Linked DNA regions of Homo sapiens: all the other regions are reported to be linked to region 1. Evidence: microRNA targets listed by miRTarBase, many of them from high-throughput screens and not tested one by one. Region 1 holds a microRNA gene; each other region holds the end of a gene's coding sequence. Distances are from middle to middle.
Evidence for each region. The annotated mature microRNA hsa-miR-4465 reads CUCAAGUAGUCUGACCAGGGGA and lies in region 1 at 4,036-4,057, shown strand. An mRNA with a match to its seed (bases 2 to 7 or 8) in the 3' UTR can be bound and repressed. Matches are read on the target gene's strand: a 7mer-m8 pairs with bases 2 to 8, a 7mer-A1 pairs with bases 2 to 7 and ends in A, and an 8mer does both.

Region 2: miRTarBase lists ZNF664 as a target of hsa-miR-4465. Seed matches in the 3' UTR shown: 7mer-A1 at 5,398-5,404.
Region 3: the mRNA of MINDY1 is a reported target of hsa-miR-4465. The part of its 3' UTR that is shown has no 7-base or 8-base seed match.
Region 4: miRTarBase lists KIAA0408 as a target of hsa-miR-4465. Seed matches in the 3' UTR shown: 7mer-m8 at 3,111-3,117 and 7mer-m8 at 2,775-2,781.

The regions. Positions count from the first base shown.
Region 1 is chr6:140,679,820-140,686,945 of GRCh38, forward strand. It overlaps MIR4465 (microRNA 4465), which reads left to right and starts at 3,995; the gene lies at 3,995-4,064. All of the region lies in intron 4 of LOC105378027 (a long non-coding RNA gene), which reads left to right.
Region 2 is chr12:124,011,945-124,019,070 of GRCh38, reverse strand. ZNF664 (zinc finger protein 664) reads right to left here. Exons shown (of 5, transcript NM_152437.3): 5 at 3,644-7,126. The coding sequence starts at 6,926. The coding sequence ends at 6,141. All of the region lies in intron 2 of ZNF664-RFLNA (ZNF664-RFLNA readthrough), which reads right to left. Among named protein-coding and RNA genes, the nearest start is that of ZNF664-RFLNA, 42 kb to the right of the region's middle.
Region 3 is chr1:150,991,461-150,998,586 of GRCh38, forward strand. MINDY1 (MINDY lysine 48 deubiquitinase 1) reads right to left here. Exons shown (of 10, transcript NM_001376665.1): 8 at 6,622-6,813; 9 at 6,164-6,319; 10 at 5,375-5,907. The coding sequence ends at 5,827. It overlaps ANXA9 (annexin A9), which reads left to right. Exons shown (of 14, transcript NM_003568.3): 13 at 3,117-3,239; 14 at 3,800-4,174. The coding sequence ends at 3,862. Among named protein-coding and RNA genes, the nearest start is that of MINDY1, 12 kb to the right of the region's middle. RefSeq lists enhancers at 4,516-4,735, 6,085-6,584.
Region 4 is chr6:127,438,328-127,445,442 of GRCh38, forward strand. KIAA0408 reads right to left here. Exons shown (of 6, transcript NM_014702.5): 6 at 79-5,955. The coding sequence ends at 5,782. SOGA3-KIAA0408 (SOGA3-KIAA0408 readthrough) reads right to left here. Exons shown (of 13, transcript NR_174482.1): 13 at 79-5,955. Among named protein-coding and RNA genes, the nearest start is that of KIAA0408, 18 kb to the right of the region's middle.

The DNA of each region.
Region 1 (7,126 bases):
AAGGCAGGTGGATCATGAAGTCAAGAGTTTGAGACCATCCTGGCCAACATGGTGAAACCCCGGCTCTACTAAAAATACAAAAAGTAGCCGGGCGTGGTGGCGGGCGCCTGTAGTCCCAGCTACTCAGGAGGCTGAGGCAGGAGAATCGCTTGAACCCTGGAGGTGAAGGTTGCAGTGAACAGAGATTGCGCCACTGCACTCTGGCCTTGGTTACAGAGCAAGACTCTTTCTCAAGAAAAAAAAAAAAAAAAAAGTAAACCAAACTATATTTTACTCCTGCAGAAAATCCTTCAATAAAAGTATATGGCTCTCAAATTAAATACCTGGCACTTTCCCTTACACTCAAGGCCATCCAGTATAGCCTACTCTAAATTTCCTTTTGTCAAGTTTTCTACTCTGTAGTTCAACTGTTTAATTTATAAATATAAAGAATATTCTATACGTTGCCATCTCTGATTTTGTCCATGTTCCTTCTATGTGGAATTCCTTCATCTCATACTTATCTGTCAAAGTCCCATGCATACCTCAAACGGTCCTTTTATAAAGGCTTTATTTTTTCTAGGTCACAAAGCCATACATTCCCTATTTTTAAAATGTTTCTTTTTTTTTTTTGTATTTTTTATTGGCGACTTAACTATTCTCAACTTCTCCATATGTCAGGCATAAAATGAGACAGAAATTGAAAAGATAAATATGACAGAGTCATACACACATATGTGTCATCAGTATTAGATGTATTACTTCAGTATAAAACAGTCAGACATCATAGTTACACATAAAAGATTAGCTTATTTTGAAATAATAGTAGTATCAGTGAGGCCATGATACTCTCTTTTAGTCTAGGATTACATTTCTTTAAATCTTTCTCCTGAAAAATTTTAATACTTCTATTTATTTTTAACCTTCTCTCTCTGTCTCTCTCTCTATATATATCTAAATAAAATATATATATGTGTGTATGTGTGTGTCTGTGTATGTGTGTATATGTGTATATATAGGTGTATCTATATAGAGATACAGATATAATATCTAATAATACACACACAACGCTTCAGACATTTTATTATTATTATAGTGTCTAATATTACACACATATATCTCTCTATATAGATATATATTCTCTATATCTCTATAGATATAGAGAATATATATTCTCTATATATCTCTATAGATATAGAGAATATATATTCTCTATATATCTCTATAGATATAGAAAATATATATTCTCTATATATCTCTATAGATATAGAGAATATATATTCTCTACATCTATCTCTATAGATATAGAGAATATATATTCTCTACATCTATCTCTATAGATATAGAGAATATATATTCTCTACATCTATCTCTATAGATATAGAGAATATATATTCTCTACATCTATCTCTATAGATATAGAGAATATATATTCTCTACATCTATCTCTATAGATATAGAGAATATATATTCTCTACATCTATCTCTATAGATATAGAGAATATATATTCTCTACATCTATCTCTATAGATATAGAGATATATATTCTCTATATATATCTCTATATCTATAGAGATATATATTCTCTATATATATCTCTATATCTATAGAGATATATATTCTCTATATATATCTCTATATCTGTAGAGATATATATTCTCTATATATATCTCTATATCTGTAGAGATATATATTCTCTATATATATCTCTATATCTGTAGAGATATATATTCTCTATATCTCTCTATATCTGTAGAGATATATATTCTCTATATATCTCTCTATATCTGTAGAGATATATATTCTCTATATATCTCTCTATATCTGTAGAGATATATGTTCTCTATATATCTCTCTATATCTGTAGAGATATATGTTCTCTATATATCTCTCTATATCTGTAGAGATATATGTTCTCTATATATCTCTCTATATCTGTAGAGATATATGTTCTCTATATATCTCTCTATATCTGTAGAGATATATGTTCTCTACATATCTCTATATCTATAGAGATATATGTTCTCTACATATCTCTATATCTATAGAGATATATGTTCTCTACATAACTCTATATCTATAGAGATATATGTTCTCTACATATCTCTATATCTATAGAGATATATGTTCTCTACATATCTCTATATCTATAGAGATATATGTTCTCTACATATCTCTATATCTATAGAGATATATGTTCTCTACATATCTCTATATCTATAGAGATATATGTTCTCTACATATCTCTATAGATATAGAGATATATGTTCTCTACATATCTCTATAGATATAGAGATATATGTTCTCTACATATCTCTATAGATATAGAGATATATGTTCTCTACATATCTCTATAGATATAGAGATATATGTTCTCTACATATCTCTATAGATATAGAGATATATGTTCTCTACATATCTCTATAGATATAGAGATATATGTTCTCTACATATCTCTATAGATATAGAGATATATGTTCTCTACATATCTCTATAGATATAGAGATATATGTTCTCTACATATCTCTATAGATATAGAGCTATATGTTCTCTACATATCTCTATAGATATAGAGCTATATGTTCTCTACATATCTCTATAGATATAGAGCTATATGTTCTCTACATATCTCTATAGATATAGAGCTATATGTTCTCTACATATCTCTATAGATATAGAGCTATATGTTCTCTACATATCTCTATAGATATAGAGCTATATGTTCTCTACATATCTCTATAGATATAGAGCTATATGTTCTCTACATATCTCTATCGATATAGAGCTATATGTTCTCTACATATCTCTATCGATATAGAGCTATATGTTCTCTACATATCTCTATCGATATAGAGCTATATGTTCTCTACATATCTCTATCGATATAGAGCTATATGTTCTCTACATATCTCTATCGATATAGAGCTATATGTTCTCTACATATCTCTATCGATATAGAGCTATATGTTCTCTACATATCTCTATCGATATAGAGCTATATGTTCTCTACATATCTCTATCGATATAGAGATATATGTTCTCTACATATCTCTATCGATATAGAGATATATGTTCTCTACATATCTCTATCGATATAGAGATATATGTTCTCTACATATCTCTATCGATATAGAGATATATGTTCTCTACATATCTCTATCGATATAGAGATATATGTTCTCTACATATCTCTATCGATATAGAGATATATGTTCTCTACATATCTCTATCGATATAGAGATATATGTTCTCTACATATCTCTATCGATATAGAGATATATGTTCTCTACATATCTCTATCGATATAGAGATATATGTTCTCTACATATCTCTATCGATATAGAGATATATGTTCTCTACATATCTCTATCGATATAGAGATATATGTTCTCTACATATCTCTATCGATATAGAGATATATGTTCTCTACATATCTCTATAGATATAGAGATATATGTTCTCTATATATCTCTATAGATATATGTTATCTATATAAATATATATTCTCTCTATATATAATTACATACACACATATATATGTATGTAATATTAGACAAAATCTCTAATAGCAAGACAAACATGCAACCCTTCCGACATTTTATTGTTATTAGATATAGTGTCTAATATTACACATATGGCACAAGCCTAGAAGAAAGCAATAGTAATAGATCATTTATCTGTGTTAATTAAAGAGGTAAAATCGTTATCTAGCAAAATATGTTGAATTTAACAAACTGCATCCAGAAAAAATTCTCTAGTTTTACCATTTCTAGAAGAGGATGCAATTTTTGTTCTTTTAAGTTTTGTTCTATGTGTGTGGGGTTGGGAAGGGAATGGGGGTGAAGGCGTGGCTGAGAGAATAAAAGCCTTGAGAAAAGAGGGCTTGCCTTGCTCCTTATGCTGGAGAGATGTCCAGGAGGTACCACGGTTGGTAGTGCTGCCTACAAAGGATGTTACAGTTGAATTTGTCAAGTTCGTTTCTTAGACAGCCCTGCTCTGGTCTAGCCCAAGCTCTCATGTGTCCCCTGGCACGCTATTTGAGGTTTACTATGGAACCTCAAGTAGTCTGACCAGGGGACACATGAGAGCTTTTCATTGATTGCATTCCCACAAGCATATTTCCGTCACAAGTGGGGCATGTATCTCTTGTTTGGTTTGTTTTTAGTTTCAATAGCATATAACTTGCTTATTTCGCTTCTATGGATACTACCTGTGCCACTAAATAGGTCCCCTTAAACCTCTTGCAAAAAAGAAGGAAGTATTATTTACTCTACTTTTCTCTTTTAACCCTGAAATGAACATACACATTGTTAAAAATATTTATGGCATTTTATTGCTACTAATTATGAAAAAAAAAAGAAACAGCAGGAAACACAAAAGAGCAAATGTCGGTCTACATTTAAAGCAACCATAATGAGGACTCTCCCAGTGTTTTTTCAACTTCCTTAATCTATGGACCATTTTCAGCTAAAAAATAATTAATGATAAGTACACTTTAATTCTAAGTATCAATTTTTATAATATCAGCTAAAAACATACCAACAAAACTTATATATGTTTTGATATAATTGTATAAAATAAAATTTTTATGTAAAATAAGATATAAACTTATTTTACTTATAGCTCTGAAATCTATTAAATTTCATTTTCAAATAAAATACTAAAGCTTCCTACCAAATCACTAAAATTCAAATTAACAACATTAATTTAATATGCCATAGATTATAATTTTTATAAAAAAATACAATTACCAATGAAATTAAAACTATGAAGCAATACTTTCTCACTTTTGTCATTCTTATTTTGACCCTTATTTAAATTATAGTAGTTATCGTTGCCTTTATTTTTGCCTTTAAAAAACTCAAAATTTTAACTATCAGGGAATTATTTTGAAGATCCAATCAATTCAATCATATTCATAAAAGGCAAAAAAATTTTGGAGTATGAAGTCCTTTATTATATATTTAGTATCATCATTACTTGTTCAAAATTAAATCTATACAACACATCTGCCAGTGAAATAATTATGACACTGACTGCTACAGTACAGGTTCTGTTGAGTTCTTCAGAGTTGAAAGACCATGTGCTATTTGGTGACAATTTCCCCCCTACTATGCCTTATGTAAATGGCTGTAAAAGCTTTATTTGTACAGCTTGCCATGATGTAATTTGTCCTTTACTTGGGGCCAATGCAAATGCAAACTCCAGGACTTCAGTAAAGCAGTGGGACATGGGTATAAATTGGTCATACAAACAATCTTTGGTATGCTCATATATATGGGTGTAAGATTATCAAAATAAATGTAGAAAATTCAAAATTCTCTTAAAACTAAGAAGTCAATCTCCAGAAATCGTAAGAGTGATAATTCTTTCTTTTATATACACTCCTTGGCACTTTTTCATGTTCTAGTTCAATTAAGAGAAAAACAAAAAAGTTGTAAAATGCTAAGTCATTCAGGATTTCTCCAGATTCCAATATTATTTATGGCTCAAGGTAGATCCAAATAAAAATGAGAGTGTTACTGTTTTACACAGGAAATATCAACTTAGGTCATTTCCCAACAGTTACACAATCCAAAGTAAATTGAATGGATCTTAAATATTTAAAAAATATATTCATTTGAGGAAAAAAAATGAAGCTTAAGACTTAGAGGAGATCTGAATTTATTTGCTAAGTAGGTAGTGAACAATTCATTTGTTCATTAAAGTTTTCTGGAGTATTTATCCTATGACATGCACTGGAACAGTTTTACCATTGTGTAGTTACATCTACTTTGATTTCAGTTCTCTGGAAATGTTACTATAGATAATGACCAGATGGAGCCTTAAGTTATTTGTAAGCTCTATATTCTATAATTCTAATTACGCTGCATTGTTGTATTGCCTCTGTTTTATCCCTCTGATTTTCAATAAACTGTAAAGTCTTTGAATGTTATATGTATATTTATTTATATATATGCATACAATCACAACCAAAAGAAGTAAAAAACCACAAACCTCCATGAATTTTATTTTATTTTACTTAATTTTAATTCATTTTATTTTATTTTTGTAGAGATGAGGCCTCACTATATTGCCCAAGCTGGTCTCAAACTCCTGGCCTCAAGAGATCCTCCCACTTCAGCCTCCCAAAGTGCTAGGATTACAGGTGTGAGCCACCATTCCTGATCAAATTTTAGAGTAAATGATAGAATAATATTCACTCTATGAATACTCAATAAATGTTGTATTTAGTAAAGATGTATTAATGATAGAACATGAACTTTCCAATAAAAATTAATGCAGAGAAGAATGCTCATTTTTATTTTACTTATAATAAATTTAATACCGTTCCAACTTAGATTTCTTTCTAGCTAAAAGGATATCATAGTAATCCATCATAGTAGTCTTACAGATTAAAGAAAAGATTACTTGGGTAAAAATAAAAGCACCAAGATTTTTCTAAGGGATTTTTATGTACATTTTGCCTTATGTCATAATGTGGACAACCATCCCTACTTACATCAAAATTTAATTAGCAAATCATAGGTTTAATTATCATCTACTACCTGTGTTTCCACAATAATTCATTTCTGCTCAAACTATATCATGATATATCAGGCTATGATTTTGACTATTGCCAAAAAGTAAAGTTTGATATTGTATTGCATTCTACACTTTTCCCAGACAGAAATAAGAGGTAATGCATTATCAAACATGGTAAAAATCATCATGTTCTAAAGCTACAGATAAAGATGCATGTGATACAGGCATACAAGAGTAATCCCAGAATTAAGAACAAGGTAAAATAATAAAAATGTGGTAAAGTTAAAGAAAAAGAAAACTCTTATTAATATTATTTCTATCAGGTATTGCCTGCAATCAAGACCTTTTTAAACTAGCATTGGAAAGGGATGGCCACAGTTCATATCATCCTTTCCCAAACATATTTCAATCAGGCTCTTTGAGGTCTTTTGTTTCAAGGAAATTAGCTCTGATTTAATAGTTTGAGAAAAAAAACGACAACAGTATTCACTGTATCTTCAGGTTGGCTCCACACTTATGAAGCAAAGGATTGAAAAGTAAGATTTGAGTAGGATTTGACAATATTGAATGAAAACATTAAAAGCAAAAAAGAAAAAGCAAGACATTTATTCAGTTCTGACAC
Region 2 (7,126 bases), not on the chromosome of region 1:
CTTTTAGCATTTCCTGATCTTTTTCAACCCCTTCACTGTCAGCCTTTTGGGTCACCCCTTTATTTTAGGTGGTCTCCCATAACCATCATATACACGTTTGTGACGTCATTTACAAATCAACTTGAAAATGTCCCTAAGTAGCTGAATTTAACCAGTTCACATTTACTATGATTAACAATATGCTTCAACTTACTCCTGCCATCTTATCCTTTCCTGTTTTTTTAATTTCTTCTCCTAATGTTTACTGGATCAAGTGAGGCAAGCAAAACACAGAGGATTCAGTTCTTTCCAGACACTGCCTGTTTCAACTATAACAATGTGGCAACAACAGCTCCAGGAAGTAGGGCTTGCTGCTCTACCAGACTCTCCCGTCATCCTCCACAGACTGTAGAAACAGGACTTACCCTTGAGACTAAGTCCCTGTGGGTCTTGACCTTATCTCAGAAAGGGGAGCGGGGGGCACACAAGGATGGAAGAGTATCAGGGGTAAAAAAAAAAAAAAAAAAAAAAGACATTTTGGGGACAGACAGGATGAAGACTAAAGAGGACTGACTTAAACAGTCAGAGATCCCAGGCAAGTGAGGTAGGACATAAAAATTAGACATGAGAGAACATGGCATTGAGCAATATGAATAGGTCTATTTGAGAACCTAAATACAACCCACACCAGTACTGGGGCCCTCACCCATTTTACAGCAAGAACTGCCTCCTCTGTAACCAAGACAGATTCAGTTGAGATCTAGTGTTTTCCATTCAGGTAGCCAATTCCGTCCACGTCCAGCCAGTCCCCTCTGAATACTCAATTGTCCTCACCTATATTCTTTTAATACACTGTTCGCAGAACTGTTGTCTTAAGCGTATGACATCGAAACTGCCACACAGCCTACCTCCTGGGCCCAGCATAACAACACATGCACATGTATCCTTCCATTTTATGCCAACGTCCTTTTCCCTCTTTCCTCACAACACAGCGTTGTGTTTTTTCCTCCGTTTATTATACCCATCATTTCCTATCCATTCCACTAACTGGAACTCTTAGGCACCCCTTTTGCCTCCCAAGATCCCCAAACAACGAGTAACCATATGCCAGCCAGTGTTCTTTATCTCTTAGAGTCACAAACATAAGGAAAGCCCCCTTTCCTAGAAAAATGCATAGACCTACAGGTACACAAAATTCTGCACATAACTTAAAAAGGTTCTAGACCTCCCCAAAAGCCGTCTGCAGGTCTTAGGTTTTAAAATTCTGTAAATACAACACCCCCACCATAATTCATGATGCAGAGAAGACCTGGATCAGGGCCAGCAAAGAATTAAGAGGGGGAGGGAAAGTCGGTCTCTCAGCGAAGCCATATTTAGACACAGTATTTAGGAAGGTACAGAGTCTATAAAATGCATACATCCGCCTAAAAATACACAAAATCTGTATGTGCTACTTTACTCTAGAAATGCAGTTTATTTACATATGCCTAAATCTGAGCAATAAAATTGCTTTGGTATAAAGTGTCATTTTCCACCGATATTTATGACAAGTTCTTACTGGCATAAACACACACACAGCCTTGGGATCTCTGGATTTGTTCATGTGTTTTGTAATATGTTAAAATGAGAATGATAAAAAAAATTCTTAAGTTTCAACTTACTTATGATTATAAAGTTATTCTACTTCATGTACATTGAGAGTGGAAATAAAGATATCCCAGGCCTCCCTGCCCCTTAGGGGTTTGGGTAAACTTGACTCAAAACTCCATTAATTCCATGGCCTGTAGCAGCTTTTAGCTACCCTGAAGATTTCTGCATATTCTGCATATTCCTTGGAGCTTGTTCTCAGGGGCACCCTCTTCTGGCTCCTATATTTATGTGTGGTACTTACGTGTTGCCCCATTTCACCCTGGATACAGCACTCAGCCCTTCCACCAGTTTCCATAAGAAATCCACCATGCCAAACACCCCTAACTTTAGGGAAAGACTTTGTGGTCACGAAGTTTTCCTACACAAGAGCTCAGAACTTCAGACCATCCTACTCCACTGGTTCCCTGGTCCTCTCTCCCACTCCAAGTCTACCCTTTGTTTTCTTACCTCCAACTACCCCAGGAGATTCAAGTTCTCTCTCTTACCATGTGGAGCAATTCAGCCCTCTCCAGGTCCTACCCCAATTTTAGATGTCCAAACCCACCACAGAGCTCAGCAAAACAAAAAGGAATCCAAATAACATGACCTTTCTTCCTTAATAGGCAACTGGGAATAGGAATTCGTTATAGCACTAAATGCTAGGCACTTTACGTTTATTTACTTCTCCCAACATTTCCATGAATTAGATATTTTCAAAACCATTTTAAAGATGAGAAACTTGAGGTTTAGAAAAATTAAGAAAATGAATATGGTTAGAGGAAGTGCTCTATCATCTTCATTTTTCCTCTCTTCCTCTCTAATCCATAGATCTTAACTCAGCTTTGCTATTTATATATGGCTCTTGCCCTGTAGTAGTATCAACCTTTCTCATCTTTTCCTAGATTTTACCACTGAGTATATTTTCCATCTGCTTCTGATATTTGCTTTCCATTCACCTAGTTTTTCAAATTTCTGAGAATATCAGTACATTACAAAGACTGAGAAATAATTCAAAAATTTTAAGAACAGAGCCAAGAGCTAGAAGGTCCCTTGGAAGGAATCATGTCCATGCTCACACAACACAAAGTAATCCCTCTTCAATTTCTGAGATGGCCTGACGAGCTGTGCCCACATTCTCACGCAGTAGACTATCTCAATGTTGGACTCTGATGCAAAGAGTTCTTCCTATCTGCAAGAGGCAATCTGCCGTTTATTCATGCTTCCAAGTTAGAAACCATGCAGTCATTCTGGACTTATCTTGGCTCACACTCTAAATCCTAGCAGATTCACCAAGAGTGAATCCCATCACAGATGACCTACCCTTGCCCCCACCCCCCACCCCCATCAGAAGGGCTAGTTTGGGTTGCTCCCATCCCAATGGTGGAATTGCAATGCAGACTTGTCTCTCAAAGCTGGTAGACGCCACAGCCAGTCAGACTGTTGACTGCGGCACAGAACGTGGGCCCCCTCTGCTTCAGCTGACAGCACTTCACGCCTTCCCAGGCATGGGCTGCAGTCAGCAGGGGCCAGGGCAGGGCTTGGAGGAACTGCCAAGGGGCACCAGGAAGATCACAGAAAGCACCAAAATGGATCACCCAAGGAAAAGGAATTAGCTGCCAACATTTTAAGATTAAACTGTGTGTGAAAATCGAGGTTGGTGTTTTCTTAGAAGAGCTGTGGGCCTGTATTCGCCGTGAACACAGAGCCACAGCCGAGCTGAGGCAGTCCTCTCAGTGGACTGTGCTCTCTCCAGATGGATTATTCCTGACTTGAGTCATTTATTACCTGTGTGGCTGTGACCTCAGACCAAGGTGTCCTCACACCTTAGTGTGCCCGAGAAAGGCCCATTCGAGGCTTGTTGTCCAGATGTGAGTATCAACAGCACCCCCTCCCTTCACTCTCAAGTGCTCAGTTTGGACAATAAATTACATGGTCACCCTGGGCTTAATGTGCAAGCCAATTCTCCACCACACACCCATACCCATACTCCCACACACGACCACTGAATTCACACAACTACATGTCAAGCACAGAACCCTGTTATAAAGCGATTTTATTAAATTGATTTGGACATACTGTAGGTCAAATAATATTTTCTGAAGATAACAATTATGGACTTTAAAGCTCGACATAAAATTAGTAGCTTCAAAAGGGTTAGTCATATTCCCCAGCAACAGCATGATAAAATAATTCAACTATGTAGAAATATAGAACTCTAGGACTAGCTGGAAACTCGGAAATCATTTAGCCTAATGTTCTCATTTTGAGAGAAAACTAGACTCAAAGATTAAGCGATTTGCCCAAGCTCACATACCTAATAGTAATAAAGCTAGAAATCAAACCAATTTTTCCTAAAACTAAAATTCTATCAATGATATTTCAACTGGCTATCAACTAAAAGTCTAGGCTTTTCTCTAATGCTCCACGCTATTGTGACATGAAAGAGTGATAAGACACTACAGTAAATCGTACTTGTGGAATTCAGGCCTGGAAGGGGCTTTGGCAAATAACTAAGCCAGCCCTCTCTTTGTAAAAAGGAGGAAAAGTATCTGAAGTGACTTACCAAAGGCTTGTTAGCAGAGATGTCTGGATTAAAATCCAGATATTGACAAATTCACCCCCAAATCCCATCTCTAGTTTCATGGCCCACCCACTAAATCATGTGCTCCTTTTAAATCTCCTTTATGCGCTGAGGTTTTAGTTATACAAAAACCCCTTCCAGTCAAACAGAAAAAATTAATTCAAATATGGAAAGAAAAATCAAACTTTCAGTATTTTCGTGACTATCTTGAGTAGTTCATTTTCCAACCTCTTAGACAGCTGACAGACACCACTAACCTGATCACCTATTTCAGAGCTTCAAAGATCCTTAATTTCCCCAAAGACTTCCTGAGCAAAAGGACTACATGTGGGAAATCAATGAAAACAGGAATGAGAAGAGAAAGTTAAAAATTGGTTGCTTTTGTTCCTGTCATTGGGGACTTTTGGTCTTCTAAACATTCCTTGAGTTCCTCCACATGAGTTTTTAATATCAATCTAGCAAAAATTAAAACAAACAAAAAAAGGCCTCTGAAAGTCAGGATACTGACCACCTCGGCATCTCTCCCCTTCCCCACTGCTTGCGAATGCCAGTGCTGGCCTGTTCCTTAAACGCACCAGCTCATCCCCCAGAGCAGCCTGTGTGCTCTGCCAGCGACTGCTACTTCTCCTCCGGCCTCAGCTCAACATCCCACCGCGGAAAGGCCTCCCTGACCACTAGCTAATGTCACCCCACCCCCACCCCACCCCACCACTAAAATCATCACCCTAGTTTATTTTCTTCATAGCACTTAATCACTATCTCAAACTACATTATTTATTTGTTTACTTATCATCTGTCTCCTCCACCAGAAGTAAACTCCACAAGAGTAGGGACCTTGTCTGTCTCATCAGTGGTATTCCCAGCACCTAGCACAGTGCCTGGCATATAGGAGGTGTTCAATACATATTTGTTGAATGAAGAAAAGAATGATGGATTAATAAAGACGTTCATGCCTAACAAAGAACTGATACACAGTAATCAATGAAGGGGTATCAAGAACTCCTATGCATTATTGCCCAAGATTACAGAAATAGAGATTGAAACATTAGTGACTCCTCCTACCATCCACTTCTCATAAGGTCTCCCTAGCTAGGAAGGAGCTCCATCTGTTACCAAAGGAGCCCAGAGGGCAATTCTGGATGAAGAAAAGCTCTCACTTTGCTTGCTTCTTCCTCCCTGCTATTTACATTCAGCTATTTCCAAAAAAATTCAAGTGAAAAATATGTGATGCAGCCACTACAAAATAAGTCTAACAGAGACAGTGATGAGCAGAATCCACACAAATAAAAAAGGTTCAAGGACATATATGTCTGCCAATGACTTTTCTGATAGGCTAAGTGAATGGGAATTATGAGTCACCTAAAATCTAAAATGAAAGTTAATGCCATCTAGGAAGGGATGGATATTTATGGGGATTTTGAGGACATATATTCAGAAATAATAGGATATATGGAAAGATATGTAGGGGCTAAATCAAGTGTTAACCTCAGAAATACCAGAACGTGATCTTAGTGGGAGCTGTCTGTTTTCCAATGCATTGCCAGTATGCTCGAATAAAGAGGAAGGAAGGGCATGAGCTCCTCAAGGGGGAGTATCTGGGATAGCTTTTAAGCAAAGTATAGATAGAAGGTGACTCAGGAGGCCGGGCAATGATTGTGGCTTTTTGTGTAGTCTTTCAACTATGGAGGCATCGTGCTGGAATCCCAGGAAGCGACGTCTGTGACTGGGACCTGAGAGCCATCCTGCGTGGATGCTCAGAGGTCCACATTCAAAGTCAACCTGTGGAACACACTTGGCATGAACCAACAAATCAATCTCACATATGCCTCCTCAGAAACAATGTTCTGCTAGGGATTGCGTAAATATTTCTTGGGTCAATGTAGGTATATACAGGGTTTCCTTCCTAGTGGCACTTATGGGTTTTAAGATTTTAAACTCTTAGCAAAACGTTTTATATAACTGATATTTTGAGATGGTTTCTCTCCTTTGTGTGGACTCTCTGGTGGATGCAGAGGCTCGTACTCTGACTGAAGGCCTTTCCGCACTCATCACATTTGAAAGGTTTCTCTCCTGTGTGGACTCTCTGGTGGATGCACAGGCTCGAACTCTGACTGAAGGCCTTCCCACATCCACAACATCTATAGGGTTTCTCTCCAGTGTGGACTCTCTGGTGGATGCAGAGGCTCGAACTCTGACTGAACGCCTTCCCACACTCATAACATTTATAGGGTTTCTCTCCTGTGTGGACTCTTTGATGCATGCAGAGGCTGGAGGTGTGCCTGAAGGCCTTCCCACACTCTTCACATTTAAAGGGCTTCTCTCCGGTGTGGACTCTCTGATGCATGCAAAGGTTTGAACTATTACTAAAGCCCCTTCCACACTCACTACAGACATACGGTTTCTCACCTGTATGAACTCTCATATGAATTTGAAGATGGGAGCTCCAATTGAAGGCTTTGCCACACTCGTAACATTTATAGGGCTTCTCCACTGTGTGGATTTTCTTATGTCTATTAAGTTTTGTTGTAGTGCTAAAATCCTTACCACAATCATCACATTTATAGACCTTCTCTCCTGTATGGTCTCTCCAATGAATATGAAGTTCTGATATATGAAAGAAACCCTTATCACACTTGTCACATTTATGGGGCTTCTCAGCTGTGTGAATTTTCTGATGCATAAAAAGATCTGCTCTCTCAGAGAAAAATTCCCTACACATGGGGCACTTGTAGATCATTTTTCCTATTTGGTATCGTGATTTCAAGGAGAAAATTTCCTTATGATTACTACAGTTACAAGACTGTTATTTCATAGAGTCTCTTATTTGGCCATTTTGGCAGTCTATCTCAGGCTTGCTCTATTAGGTAAGTTTAAGGTCAGCCTAAGCTTTTCCCTGCCTGTCTTTCTACGGAAGGTTTCTTCCTGCATAGTGTTCCT
Region 3 (7,126 bases), not on the chromosome of region 1:
TCCTGATCTCGTGATCCACACGCCTCAGCCTCCCAAAGTGCTGGGATTACAGGCCTGAGCCAAGGTGCCCGGCCTTCTTCTTCTTCTTTTTTTTTCCTTTGAGATGGAGTCTCACTCTGTCGCTAGGCTGGAGTGCAGTGGCACGATCTTGGCTCACTGCAACCTCCACCTCCTGGGTTCAAGCAATTCTCCTGCCTCACCCTCCCAAGTAGCTGGAACTATAGTTGCCCGCCACCACATCCGGCTAATTTTTTTGTTTTTAGTAGAAACAGGGTTTCACCACGTTGGCCACGCTGGTGGCAAACTTTTTTTTTTTTCTTTTTTAAGATGGAGGCTTGCTCTGTCACCCAGGCTGGAGTGCAATGGCGCGATCTTGGCTCACTGCAACCTCTGCCTCCTGGGTTCCAGCAATTCTCCTGCCTCAGCCTCCTGAGTAGCTGAGATTACAGGCGCCCGCCACCACGCCCGGCTAATTTTTGTATTTTTAGTAGAGACAGGGTTTCACCATGTTGACCAGGCTGGTCTCAAACTCCTGGCCTCAGGTGATCCACCAGCCTCAGTCTTCCAAAGTGCTGGGATTACAGGCGTGAGCCACCGTGTCCAGCCTGTATTATTCTTTTATGAGAGATATGTAGATATATGAAAACATAAATTGTGAAGAATATTTATTCAGAAAAACAACCTTCAGAAAATCAGCAATGGCTGATTCAGGACAAATTTCCACCAATCTGTAGTAAAAATTAATGTTCCTGGTGAAGATCCTAGGGCCATATGCAATGCCAGGTATACGATTAAGTATTATAATTAGGCCAGGCATGGTGGCTCATGCCTGTAATCCCAGCACTTTGGGAGGCCAAGGCAGGTGAATCACCCGAGGTCAGGAGTTCGAGACCAGACTGACCAACATGGTGAAACCCCGTCTCTACTAAATATACAAAATTAGCTAGGTGTGGTGGTGTGCACCTGTATTTCCAGCTACTTGGGAGGCTGAGATAGGAGAATTGCTTGAACCTGGGAGGCAGAGGTTACAGTGACCTGAGATCGCACCACTGCACCCCAGCCTGGGTAACAGAGTGAGACTCCATCTAAACAAACAAACCATATATATATATGCTGAAGCGAGCAGATCACTTGAGGTCAGGAGTTTGAGACCAGCCTGGCCAACATGGTAAAACCCCACCTGTACTAAAAATAAAAAAATTAGCTGGGCGTTTGGCACATGCTATAGTCCCAGCTGCTTGGGAGGCTGAGGCAGGAGACTTGCTTGAACCTGGGAGGCGGAGGTTGCAGTGAGCTGAATTCACGCCACTGCATTCCACTCTGGGTGACAGAGCAAGAAAAAAGAATACTTGTACAACAATGAGAGTATTCAGTTAATGAGTGACTCTTGCCCAATTCTGTAACTTTAGAGTAACAAGCGTTGGAAGAAGAGAAGAATGGATACTGGGGAGCAATTGGCAATCTTTATGACAATACAAAACTAATGATGCATAAAAGTTAAAATGAAGTAGACATTAGGTCCACTGACAATTAGGTAATGAGTCTAAATGAATTGGAGCATCCTGTTTTACTTCATTTTCTTTTGTTTTGTCAAAGGAGTTTATGATCTATTGGGATGCCCTAAGTATGTGTTGTAGGCAGTTCTGGGAAGAGTCTTGTGAGTAAAGTGACTCAGGAAACTCTGAAAATGAGGATATTAGGAATTGATGACAACACTGGTGCACAGAAAAAAAAAAACACAGGAATTTTACAATTAAAAGTTTTTATTTAAAAATCTCTCATAACAACACATTACTTAGTATAATCAATTATAATTCAGGATTTTGATGACTTGTACCTGTGTTATTTCTTTTCTTTTCTTTTTTTTTGAGACGGAGTCTTGCTCTGTCCCAGGCTGGAGTGCAGTGGTGTGATCTCAGCTTACTGCAACGTCCGCCTCCCAGGTTCAAGCAATTCTCCTACCTCACCCTCCTCAGTAGCTGGGATTATAGGCGCCTACCACCACACCTGGCTAATTTTTGTAGTTTTAATAGAGACGGGGGTTTCACCATGTTGGCCAGGCTGGTCTCGAACTCCTGACCATAAATGATCTGCTTGCCTTGGCCTCCCAAAATTCTGGGATTACAGGCATGAGCCACCACACCTGGCCTGTTATTTCTTTTTTCTTTCTTTCTTTTTTTTTTTTTTTTTTGAGACGGAGTTTTGCTCTTCTTGCCCAGGTTGGAGTGCAGTGGCGCGATCTCAGCTCACTGCAACCTCCGCCTCCTGGGTTCAAGCAATTCTCCTGCCTCAGCCTTCCAAGTAGCTGGGATTGCAGGCACCCACCACCATGCCTGGCTTATTTTTGTATTTTTAGTAGAGACGGGGTTTCACCATTTTGGTCAGGCTGGTCTCGAACTCCTACCTCAGATGATCCACGCGCCTCATCCTCCCAAAGTGCTGGGATTACAGGCATGAGCCACTGTGCCTGGCCTGTTATTTCTAAACTGAACCTTTCATTACTTTCTTTAGCCAAAAAACAGGCCTGCTGCATGTACAGGAGGAAGATAGCAATGTTTCAGCCTAAGGGTCCAACCGGAGAAACTAATATGCAGAGATGGGGCTGTGAGATGGCCCTATTGGGTTGGAATCAGAACTAGAAGTCACACAACCTTGAACCCTATCAGAGCCTCATCAGCTCAGTTTAGGGATAGGGCAGGTATATCCTCCTTGGATATTCACTAACTTGAAAGTTAAAAGCAGTTTTCCTGGTTTTCATGCTGGCAGTCTTTATATGCACCAAATCTTTTCTAGCCTTCCTGGTGTACCTATCTTTGGAGCTGCTCACCACCAAATTCTGGAGGTACACAGCTCTAAGCTAATGGTAGGGGCAGGAAAGACATGTGGAAAGAAATAAATACTCAAGCTGCCCCCACAGAGACTGATCTTTCCTGCTGTGTCATCTTCCTTGAGGATGGACAAACATAACTTTTGTCCCGAGATAATGTATAATGTACACTCTTATCCCTTGACTCCCACCTTGCCTCCCCTTCCTACAATAACCCTCCAAGCCATTCAACCCCTACTCTCAGTGAGACTCTCACTAACTACCCCCCATCTCTTTCTTCCCCTACTAGGAAACTGAGCCCAATTACCAAGTCCTGATTCGCATCCTTATCTCTCGATGTGAGACTGACCTTCTGAGTATCAGAGCTGAGTTCAGGAAGAAATTTGGGAAGTCCCTCTACTCTTCTCTCCAGGTGAAACTTGGCTACTTCTTAGCCTGGAGCCTCAGGCCTTCACTCCTCACCTCCACCCTCACTCCCTGCACACAGCTGAGCATATTCTTGCCCCATAGAAAACCCAGTAGTTAGCCAGGCACAGTGGCTCACGCCTGTAATCCCAGCACTTTGAGAGGCTGAGGTGGGCGGATCACGAGGTCAGGAGTTCAAGACCACCCTGACCAACATGGTGAAACCCCGTCTCTACTAAAAATACAAAAATTAGCCAGGCATGGTGGCGTGCACCTGTAATCCCAGCTACTCAGGAGGCTGAGGCAGGAGAGTCGCTTGAACCCAGAAGGCAGAGGTTGCAGTGAGCCAAGATCGTGCCACTGCACTCCCACCTGGGTGACAGGGCAAGACTCCATCTTAAAAAAGAAAACCCAGGAGTCTTTGGTTAATGTAGTGCAGGACTCTGAGCTCCCGGGAGGACCCTTCCCTCCCAGATGAACTGTGATGGACCAGCCCAAAGGAGGGGAGAGAGCACTTGGGCCATAGTGGTGGTGGATCTTTCTAACACTGAATTCCCTTGTCTGCAGGATGCAGTGAAAGGGGATTGCCAGTCAGCCCTCCTGGCCTTGTGCAGGGCTGAAGACATGTGAGACTTCCCTGCCCCACCCCACATGACATCCGAGGATCTGAGATTTCCGTGTTTGGCTGAACCTGGGAGACCAGCTGGGCCTCCAAGTAGGATAACCCCTCACTGAGCACCACATTCTCTAGCTTCTTGTTGAGGCTGGAACTGTTTCTTTAAAATCCCTTAATTTTCCCATCTCAAAATTATATCTGTACCTGGGTCATCCAGCTCCTTCTTGGGTGTGGGGAAATGAGTTTTCTTTGATAGTTTCTGCCTCACTCATCCCTCCTGTACCCTGGCCAGAACATCTCACTGATACTCGAATTCTTTTGGCAAACTTCGCTGTTGTTTGTGTTCCCTGATTGAAGGTTGGGTGGAGCAGGACATGGACCGGGAAGAGGCACTGGAGTTGGAAGTGCCTTTGATGTGCACTTGGCTATTCCGCAGGAATCCTGTTTTGCCTTAGTGCTACAGTAATCCACACCCAGGTCTCCCACTCCAGGTCTCCCCTCACCCTCATTCTCCAGGAAACTTCAGGCAAAATAATTGAGAAACAGGCATTAGAACAAGGTGAGAAATAGAGGGAGCAAAGGACCATCTGTATGAACTGGGAAGCAAGCGGAGGGCCAAGCTACCCTCCCCAGCATGGGAATTCTTGGGTTAGTGGAGAGCACAACCCTCAAATTCATGTGTCCAAGCAGAGATTTGGAAACCCACCTCCCAGGAGAGCACTATTTCCCATAGAAAACAAAAACAAAAACAGAAACAAAAACAAAAAGTCAGGCTTTGGTTCCCCCTGCAGGCTATATTAGAAATGACAGGTAGCTGGGCGCAGTGGCTCACGCCTGTAATTCCAGCACTTCGGGAGGCCAAGGCAGGCGGATTACTTGAGGTCAGGAATTCAAGACTAGCCTGACCAAAGTGGCGAAACCGTCTCTACTAAAAATACAAAAATTAGCTGGGCGCAGTGGCGCATGCCTGTAGTCCCAGCTACTCAGGAGGCTGAGGTAGGAGAATCGCTTGAATCCGGGAGGCGGAGGTTGCAGTGAGCTCAGATTGCACCACTGCACTCCAGCCTGGGCAATACAGCGAGGCTCCATCTCAAAAAAAAAAAAAAAAGAAAAAAAGAAATGACAGGTAACCACCTTCCTGCCTCTGACCCACCTCCCGCTTTTTGCATTCTTCAATTGGGTCAAATACTTAACCCTATTGCTTCAGGGTAAGGCAAACAACAGATCTCAGGAAAGAAGGTTTTTTTTTTTTTTAGACAGTTTTGCTCTTGTCGCCCAGGCTGGAGTGCAATGGTGCGATCTCGGCTCACTGCAACTTTCACCTCCCAGGTTCAAGTGATTCTCCTGCCTCAGCCTCCCGAGTAGCTGGGATTACAGGCGCCCACCATGACGCCCAGCTAATTTCTTGTATTTTTAGTAGAGACGGGGTTTCACCTTTTTGGGCAGGCTGGTCTCGAACTCCTAACCTCAGGTGATCCGCCCACCTTGGCCTCTCAAATTGTTGAGATTACAGGAGTGAGCCACCGTGCCCGGCCAGAAGTTTTATTTCCAAACCCCAGGAAGGCATTACAAATAAGAGATAGAAACCCAAATTAAGCTCTGAAACAACTGGAGACAGGCCTGCCTAGGTGATCAGGAGCATCCAGGCAGCAGGGATGGGAAGCAGAAGAGATGCATTCTGGATAGGGACCTCACCCCAGAGCCTCAGTCTGTACATACGTGTGACTATTCAGGGACCGGGAGTTGAGAACCAGAAACCCACCAATCCTAGTGTTGCCCTGGATGGGAGGCAGAGAAGGCAGCAGCACGTGAGGTCAAGGACATTACCAAGTCTGACCTTGGCATTTGTTGCCTGCTCTCATCCCCAACAGTCCATAAATAAGTTATCCAGCACATCTCAGGGGTGGAGGCGGGGGAGCAAGCCAACTAGCCATAGCCTCTGGAAGAAGGGGCAGGCCAGCCTGGCACTGGGGCAGAGCTACAGCAGAATGCAGTCTGACTCGTGCTTCGGCCTCTGCCGACGCTCCCCGGCTGGGCGTCCAGATGTGGCTCCTCTCCCCTGTATCGGATTTAACAATTGGTCACTGAACTTCCTTGGAAGAGCACAAGAAGAGATTCTAGAAGAAGGGGTGTCAGGATTGGGACAGAGAGTAGGGAGAGGAAGACAGGAAGGGGCTCCAGGGGAGAGGGACAGGCAGGGGAAGGACTCTGAGAGAAGAAACCTTGAAGAGACCAGTGCAGGAATAACAGGTGTTCTGGACCCGGCAAAGCATGAGGTGGAAACCGGGAGTGTGGGCGCCCAGGCAGCAGCCCACCTGCAGTGACAGGACCCGCGTCCGCATCCGCACTGGCTGCGCTGCCTGCTGCTGTTGATACTCCTCTTGCTGAAGCTGCTGGGCCAGCTCCAAGTCGGTAAGCCCCAGCGGGCCTCGTGGCTGTTGCTGCTGCAGGGACAGAGCAATCAGGTAGTCCTGGGGAGAACAAGAGTTGTGCAGTGGGCTGAGGCCCAGAGCCGTGGCTATTCAGGCAAGGTTTCCAAATCAGTTTTCCCACATCCCTCAAATTCTCTAGCTCTTTCTCCCCACAGAGCAGCACACACAGCCAAATGCATTATCTGTGGTGCCAGAGAATACACACCAAGTGAGGAGACGGTCTGAGGTAACCCAGAGAGAGAGGCATGGGTTCACATGGCCTCTAGCAGTTAAAATGTATGCAGTAAAAAGCTCTCTGAGGCACATGTGCTCTCTGCACTTTTCCTAAGTGCCCTACACACCTGGTCTACCTGCAGCTGCGTTTCTGGGGAGCCACTCCCACCTTCTGCTCCAGGCCCCTTGCCCAGGGAATGACTCAGGTGAAAGTCAGAGTCACAAAAGCAGCTGTCTCCATCCACATTGTGCAGGCTCTCCCATACGACTTGCTCCTCCTGTAGAAAGCCCTGGTCAGTGACCAGTAGGTATAAGTGACTCTACAAAGAAAAGAACAGAGCTCATTGGGGGGACAGTTGATACGGAGGCAGTTCACTGCCAGAAATCTCGGTATGAGCATGTGGACTTTTTTTTTCTTGGAGATGGAGTCTCGCTCTGTCATCCAGGCTGGAGTGCAGTGGCACAATCTCTGCTCACCGCAAGCTCTGCCTCCCAGGTTCACACCATTCTCCTGCCTCAGCCTCCCAAGTAGCTGGGACTACAGGCACCCGCCACCATGCCTGGCTAATGTTTGGTATTTTTTTAGTAGAGACGGGGTTTCACCGTGTTAGCCAGGATGGCCTCGATCTCCTG
Region 4 (7,115 bases), 13 Mb from region 1:
CAAATATATAATTCAGGTTAGACAATTTGGTGTTGAGACTGGTCAGCATTATGTAAGAAAAAATCTGCAGATCCCAAATAGCTGGATTAAATTTGTTTAATGATTCTTATAAAATTGCCATGAGTAAGTAATTGAAAAATAAAGCTTCAAAAATAAACTGGCAGCAGAGCACAATTGCAGTCACATTGCTTAACAACAGGGATATGATCTGAGAAACGTGTTCTCAGGTGATTTCATCACTGAGCGAACATCACAGAGTGTAATTATATAAATCTAGATGGTAGGCTTGAAAGTATGATCTATTGCTCCTAGGCTACAAACCTGTACAGCATGTTACTGTACTGAATACTAAAGGCAATTGTAACACAATGATATCTGTATATGTAAACATAGAAAAAGTATAGCAAAAATATTGTATTATAATCTTATCATCATATATGTGCATTGAACTGGTTTGTGCAGCATGTGACTGTAATTTTGAGTGAGGTTTATATTGGAAATTACTGTATGCTTGCTATGGTTTGAATACGTACCTCCAAAATTCATGTTGAAACTTAATCTTCAATATTAAGAGGTAGGGCCTTTAGGAGGTGATTGGATTATGAAGGCTTCTCTTTCATGAATGGGATTTAAGGCCCTTATAAAAGAAGCATCACATAGCATTCAGCTGCTTCTTGCTATTCTGCTGTTTCTCCATTGTTGGCCCCTTCTGCCATATAAAGACACAGCAATAAGGCACCACCTTGAAAGCACACAGCAGCCCTCACCAGACACCGAATCTGCTTGCAGCTTGATCTTGGACTTCCCAGCCTCCAGAACTGTAGAGAAATAAATTTCTGTTCTTTATAAATAACCCAGTCTCAAGTGTGTTTTGTTATAGCAGCACAAATGAGCCAAGATAATACTTCAAGCAAACTGCTTTTATTTATTCTGGAGTATATGTAACTTATGAAGTGTGAAACTATTCTGATTCTTTTGAAGATTGAGGTCAGGATTCAGTTGACGCTAGAGATGAATACTGATTGGCTATTTATTGGTTTTACTTCAACATCATGTCCTACATACAAAATTTATATAAAATCAGAGCATAGGCATTAAAAGTGGAAATATTTTGTTAAAGCCTTGTTCACAACTTCTTGAATTTCATAAAACCATTTAAGTCAGGGGTGATGACTTTTGATGATCATTGAAAGAGGGAATCAACAGAAACTCCCAATGAGAGCAAGATAAACAATTTGTGTCATGTATAAAATGAACAAAACAAAAATGAAAAAGAGCTGTTCAATCTTTTTTTTTTTTTGTCTTCTCTTCCTTGGGAAAAGAAGGCTGGAAAAATAGCCTGAGCTAGGAGTCTGAAGAGCCATCTATTTAACTATCATCTTCAAAAATATTTATTCTAAATATTATCTTGACTACTTAATTTTTCCTTCTTACTTAGAAATCACAATGCCTGCCTTGTAGTTTGTTGTAAGAAGCAGACAAGTCGTGGAATATGAATTTGCTTTGCAAACAATAAGGTCATAGATGCACATGGGACATTTATACAGGAGAGCAGATCATGAGTGAGCCCAGGCTTGGATTCTGTCCCTGCAATCTTGGCAGCCATGCAGACCTCTTTGAATCTCAGGTTTCCCACCTCTAAATGAACTTGTTCTGAGTTCATAGGTCCCTCAAAATCTAAACCGTTACCTACTTTCTAGATTTCTCCATAGCTTCATATAAACAGATTTTTTTCCTAAGAATTTGTTAATTTAACCTATTGGATTAATACTATCATTGAAATGTGTATCAGATTTTAAGTATCATGATTTTATTCCCAATAAAACAAAAAATTATTTTCTATGATGAATATGCATACAATAAAAATGACGAGAAATCATTTTTGGTACTTGTCTGAAGAACTCATCCCCAATTTTTGCCTTTTTTGCTTTGCAAAGCACATTTTCTTGTAGGAACATATTTTCAGGGTGAGATGAACAAGTCATAGTTATAAGTTCTTTTTTTTTTTTTTTTTTGAGACAGAGTCTCACTCTGTCACCCAGGCTGGAGTGCAGTGGCGCGATCTCTGCTCACTGCAAGCTCTGCCTCCCGGGTTCATGCCATTCTCCTGCCTCAGCCTCCCGAGCAGCTGGGACTACAGGTGACCACCACAATGCCTGGCTAATTTTTTGTATTTTTAGCAGAGAGGGGGTTTCACCGTGATGAAACCAGGATGGTCTCCATCTCCTGACCTCGTGATCCCCCCACCTTGGCCTCCCAAAGTGCTGGGATTACAGGCAAGAGCCACCGCGCCCACCAGTTCTAAGTTCCGATACATGTACTTGCTACTTAAGAAAAACATGCCGAATTTAAAGCAAATAGTACTGTAATAAAAAAATCTGATTTTCCTGAAAATGGTTTAATTTTATGATGTAAATGCAAATCTTAGAAGTAAAAACTTTTTTCAAAGAAGACTTTTATCAGACTCAATTAGCAGTTAAATGGGTAGAGAGAGGATGTCAGTGTACGAGAAGCCATATGGAGTTTTGGGTGGCCAGGAGCAGGAAGTCAGGCAGGTTTGGCTTCAGTTGTACTACCTAGAGATATTTTGGAAGAAGCTAGAGTGAACTGTGTACATATATGAGTTTAGATTTCATAAGACACTTAGCTTTACTGGAGTTCACTGCAGAAAATGAGGGAAAGAAAAATGTTCTCGATGTATACAAATGCCACAGACAGTTGTTTTTACACCTACTTTATTTGATAGCTTCTAATGGCTGAAGGAGATTTCAATATCAAGTAGTTGTTTGTCACAAATGTGCCTAAAAATAACTTTAAAGATCTTTGTAGGGAAGCAGAAACTCTTAAGTCCAGATGTTTTCTCAGGATAACTAAACCTGGTAAAATCACCTATATAGAAGTAAATAATATTTTATGGCCACATCTGCAAAATGAAATATGATCATCTTCATTGTCGATATAAAAACAAATGAAAGTTATGGGTAATTTTTGATAAAATGAATTATACAAAGCATCATTTATATTTTTATATTTGGCTTTGGGACATAAGGCAATATGGAGAACTTATGTGACACTGACACAAACACACACACACACACACACACACAAACTCAAGTACTCCTCTCTGCCTCATCCTTATTCCTTTCTGAGATCAGCCCATAATATCAGTAATCCTCTGCTGAACTAAAATAATATTTTTGCTCCAAAAGTCTGCTAGGGAAAACATCTATTAATATATGTTTTTAAATCAAATATTTCCAGAAATGCTTACAAGTCCCTTTAAATCTAGCAATGATAGCATAATAAAGGGCATATTCTAGGGAAGAAAATGCCCACCTAAAGTAGAAATTTACCAGTTAAAAATCACAAAACATCAAAAACTATTTTCAAGGATTATTTCCATTTACCTAATAGGTTTTTCCATTTAAAAGTTATAAAATATTTAAAAAGAGAAAACAGAACATTCAAATAACCTTAGTTTTTCAGTTTTACAATCAAGGAGTTGGACTAGATGCTATTTTTTTTTTCTCAGCTCTAACTATAATTTTAGTCAACATAAGAAGACGTTAAAATGTGTCCCACTGGTTCATTCAACTGTTAATAGAAAAAAGTGGCTTAAAATTGTGAAGTCTGAAAGTATAGCCATTCTAATTTACAGATAACAAAGGCAAGTCCTAGGAAGAAAAGTGACCACCCAAGGGCATCCATCCATTCAGAGATCAAGCAATGTCACTGTTTTCAAATCTGCCTGATCATCAATATTTTGCTTTGTTTTGTTTTGTTTTATTAATGGTTCTGGAGTCCCAGTCCCTACCCCTGGAAATTTTGCTTTAGTAATATGGGGTGAGATCAGAAATTTCATTTTTTAAAGAGATCCTCAATATTCTAAGGAACCACAGATCATACCAGACTACTTGGGATACACTGGTGGAGAGGAACAGATAGGTTGCACAGTCCTTGGGCAGGCTCTCCATTGTCACACAACAGCATTTTCCTAACAGGTCCGTCATTTTATGACCCAGGGTTCCTCTTTCCTGGTGTTTTCTCCCCTCTAGCTGGAAAGCATATTATGAGAGTGATATTACTTGGTGTCTAGTTTACTTTTCTTTGATAGCTTCCTGTGGAAAAGGATCTTCCTGAAGGAAATAAGAATTAAAAGAGTAGATGTATAGACCTTAGTTACCATCCAATACAAATCACTCTAGACCTTTAATTCCACTTAACTACCGAAACTGTCCTTACAGTAAAGTATGAATCTAGACATCACCATGCTACAGTCTTGAGCCTTTCAAGGAAGTCTGCAATTTGAAAATTATTTTCTTTACCTCAGGTCATGGGGTACAATGAAGTGAATTTCTCTAAATGGTTCAAATACATCATAAGGAGATGGCTCTTGGAATACATTTGGCATAAGAATTTCTTAGTAAAAGAAAAGCTTAAATAGAGTTAATATCTAATAACATAACATAATTGGTTTTATATAGTGACAGTAGAGAGCAAAGTTCCTTCTAAAATCTTCCATTTAGAATTCCAAGCCCCTCGACATTCATATTTCTGTCAGTTTTCAATATAGATTTTATGTGTTCACTGTATGCAAACTGTAGCCAAAATACACATTTCTATTCCTGATGCTACTGTGGATGTCAAGGTTTAGTTTAAGCCTTTTTTCGGTAGCAAACTGTGAGAAGTATAATTTCAGCTTTCAAAGAAATATTATTCCTGATCTTCCTTGTTAGTAAAAAAGTAACTTAGTTTGTTATCTATTAATTTTAAGGAAAAGATTAGAAAAAGGAAAAAAATAATAAATGACTTACCTCTAAGTATGTATGACTCCATGTTAAAGCAGCTAAACTAAAAGCTTACCACAACTTAAAGAAAAACTAAAATTCAACATCATTCAGTTTCTTTTTGCATCCCATTTAGGAAATGTTTGTTGCTGAGGCTGACAAAATAAATTCATCATTTAATCATGTCATTTATAATGCAGTCTCATGATACTGTCTCTGAGGATCAAATATTCAGTTAAAGCCATACTAGACTACCAAATAATATATAAAACATTTATGAACATTTTATGCTTGCTTTACAAGGCTGATCTATTAAACTTGTGACATTTTTATTTAAAAAGAATAAACAAGAATATCAATGGTATTATTTTATCCTTATATGGGTTAAGAAATTATTTATGAGTTGTCTTTAGAAATCTACCAATGTTAGATGTGTGCATAATTCTTCTTTTTCATTGTAGCTGGGGGCCAAGGAAGTGGTCAATTAATATTTGTACTGCAAATGCCTTAAGTGGATACCTATTAAAAGGTATACAAAATATAAACAGTACTGCATATTTTCAAAACTTTTAAATAAACACAAAGAATATATAGGTATACATGTTATAATTTCAAAGTCAACACTAGCACATAAGTTTTTCATATCTAAATACATACTAGGATACTTCCTATTTCAACACATGCACCTACAAACACATGGCCATGCACATAACCTTACTTTCTGCCACTTGCAACAAAGAATATACAATATTGTACATTGTTTCAACTTATATTGTATTGGAAAACTAATGAGGATGGCATTAAAAAATTCTGATCTAAGAAATCAAAATGCAGGAAGATAATTATTCCTTAGATTAAAAACACTGAAGACTGATGGAAAGTTAAGATTCAAATTGCTTGTCGGAAGAGAACAGGTCCGCCTGTAAACACTCAGAATGCTCTGTTTGACAAGTGGGACTAGAACTTCTGTAATATAGCAATCCAGGCCAAAGACTTAAACCATCAATGCTTCGGATCGCAGAGAAATGGTATAGTTGTGGGTAGTTCTCCGCAAGGCAGGGGGTGCAGATGGAGATCTGGATGCCCATCTGGAGGGGAGACGACGATTTGCTGGTCTAGCAGGTCGGGAAAATCCTTTTCCATGTGAGGCGTTCACTGACATGGATTCCTAGGACACAAGTAAAAACATTCCTCTCACTCTCTGGGTACCAACAATAGGCTTAATATATGATGGGTCTCAACTATAAGATTAGTCCGTTAGTAAATTTACAAGAAAGAAAAAGCATTGAAAACTAAAGAAGGTAGTTGTCTAATATTTGTGGTTTTGAATGTTTTAAAGCAATTCAATTTTAATATGGAATATGATATTTGATAATTTTGTACCTTTCCTTACACTGACAAATTTTAATACAGTTAATCTCTCTGTAGAACTAATGATGAGCTCAGGATTTAAAATTTCAAGTTAAATAACTTGAATATCATGGAAATACAGATGTTTCTTAGTGCGCTGTTAGTATGTTACAGTGTTATTTAAAAATAAAAAGATAATTTATAGAAGAAACTGTTCATTTATGTCAAATTCATTGACACTTTTAGAGGTGATACGCAAAAGGCACACAAACCAAATGATTAATCTGATGCTTTTTTTTTTCACTATCACTGGCACTATCTATCAAAACCTTAAAATTATCATTAAAATACTTTTAAATACATCTTCATTCTAATTACTAATACAAAATTGCTATCTCTTGGGCATGTTCTGATGAGAGAAAACCTTTTCCTTCACTTTTCTTCTCTTTCTTTTATTTTCTTCCTTCTTTCCTTTTATTTTAATGGAAAAAAAGCATTCCTTGGTCCTTAAAATTAAAACAAAAGTACAAAGCTTCCATGACACACTTTATACACTTGGTTCTTATTGACCCTTCTTAGACCCCACAAAGCCTGTGCTCTTTCATCTGAGCTAGGCAGTGAGGATGGCCTCCTATTTCTACTATTTTAGCCATGGTCTGACAGTAAACTGCAGTTTCTTTTTCTTTTTGGAGACTTATTTTCTAGATTTGTTCCCACAGGAGGAAGAACAAAAAACAAAAACAAAAACTGCTCCTGAGGATCTATAGTAGAGAACCTCCCTGCCAAACTCCCAATGAATGCAAAAAGGGAAATCACTCAGTATTATTTCTTGTTAGTTAACAAGAATTTTGTTTGGTTATTGTACAGATATATCTATTTCCCATCTTTAGCTATAGGACCTTGTGGGCATTGATGGGCTCAATTAAAAAGCAGAGAAATACAAAAGCAGGATACTTTCTGCACCTTATAAAAACAGGC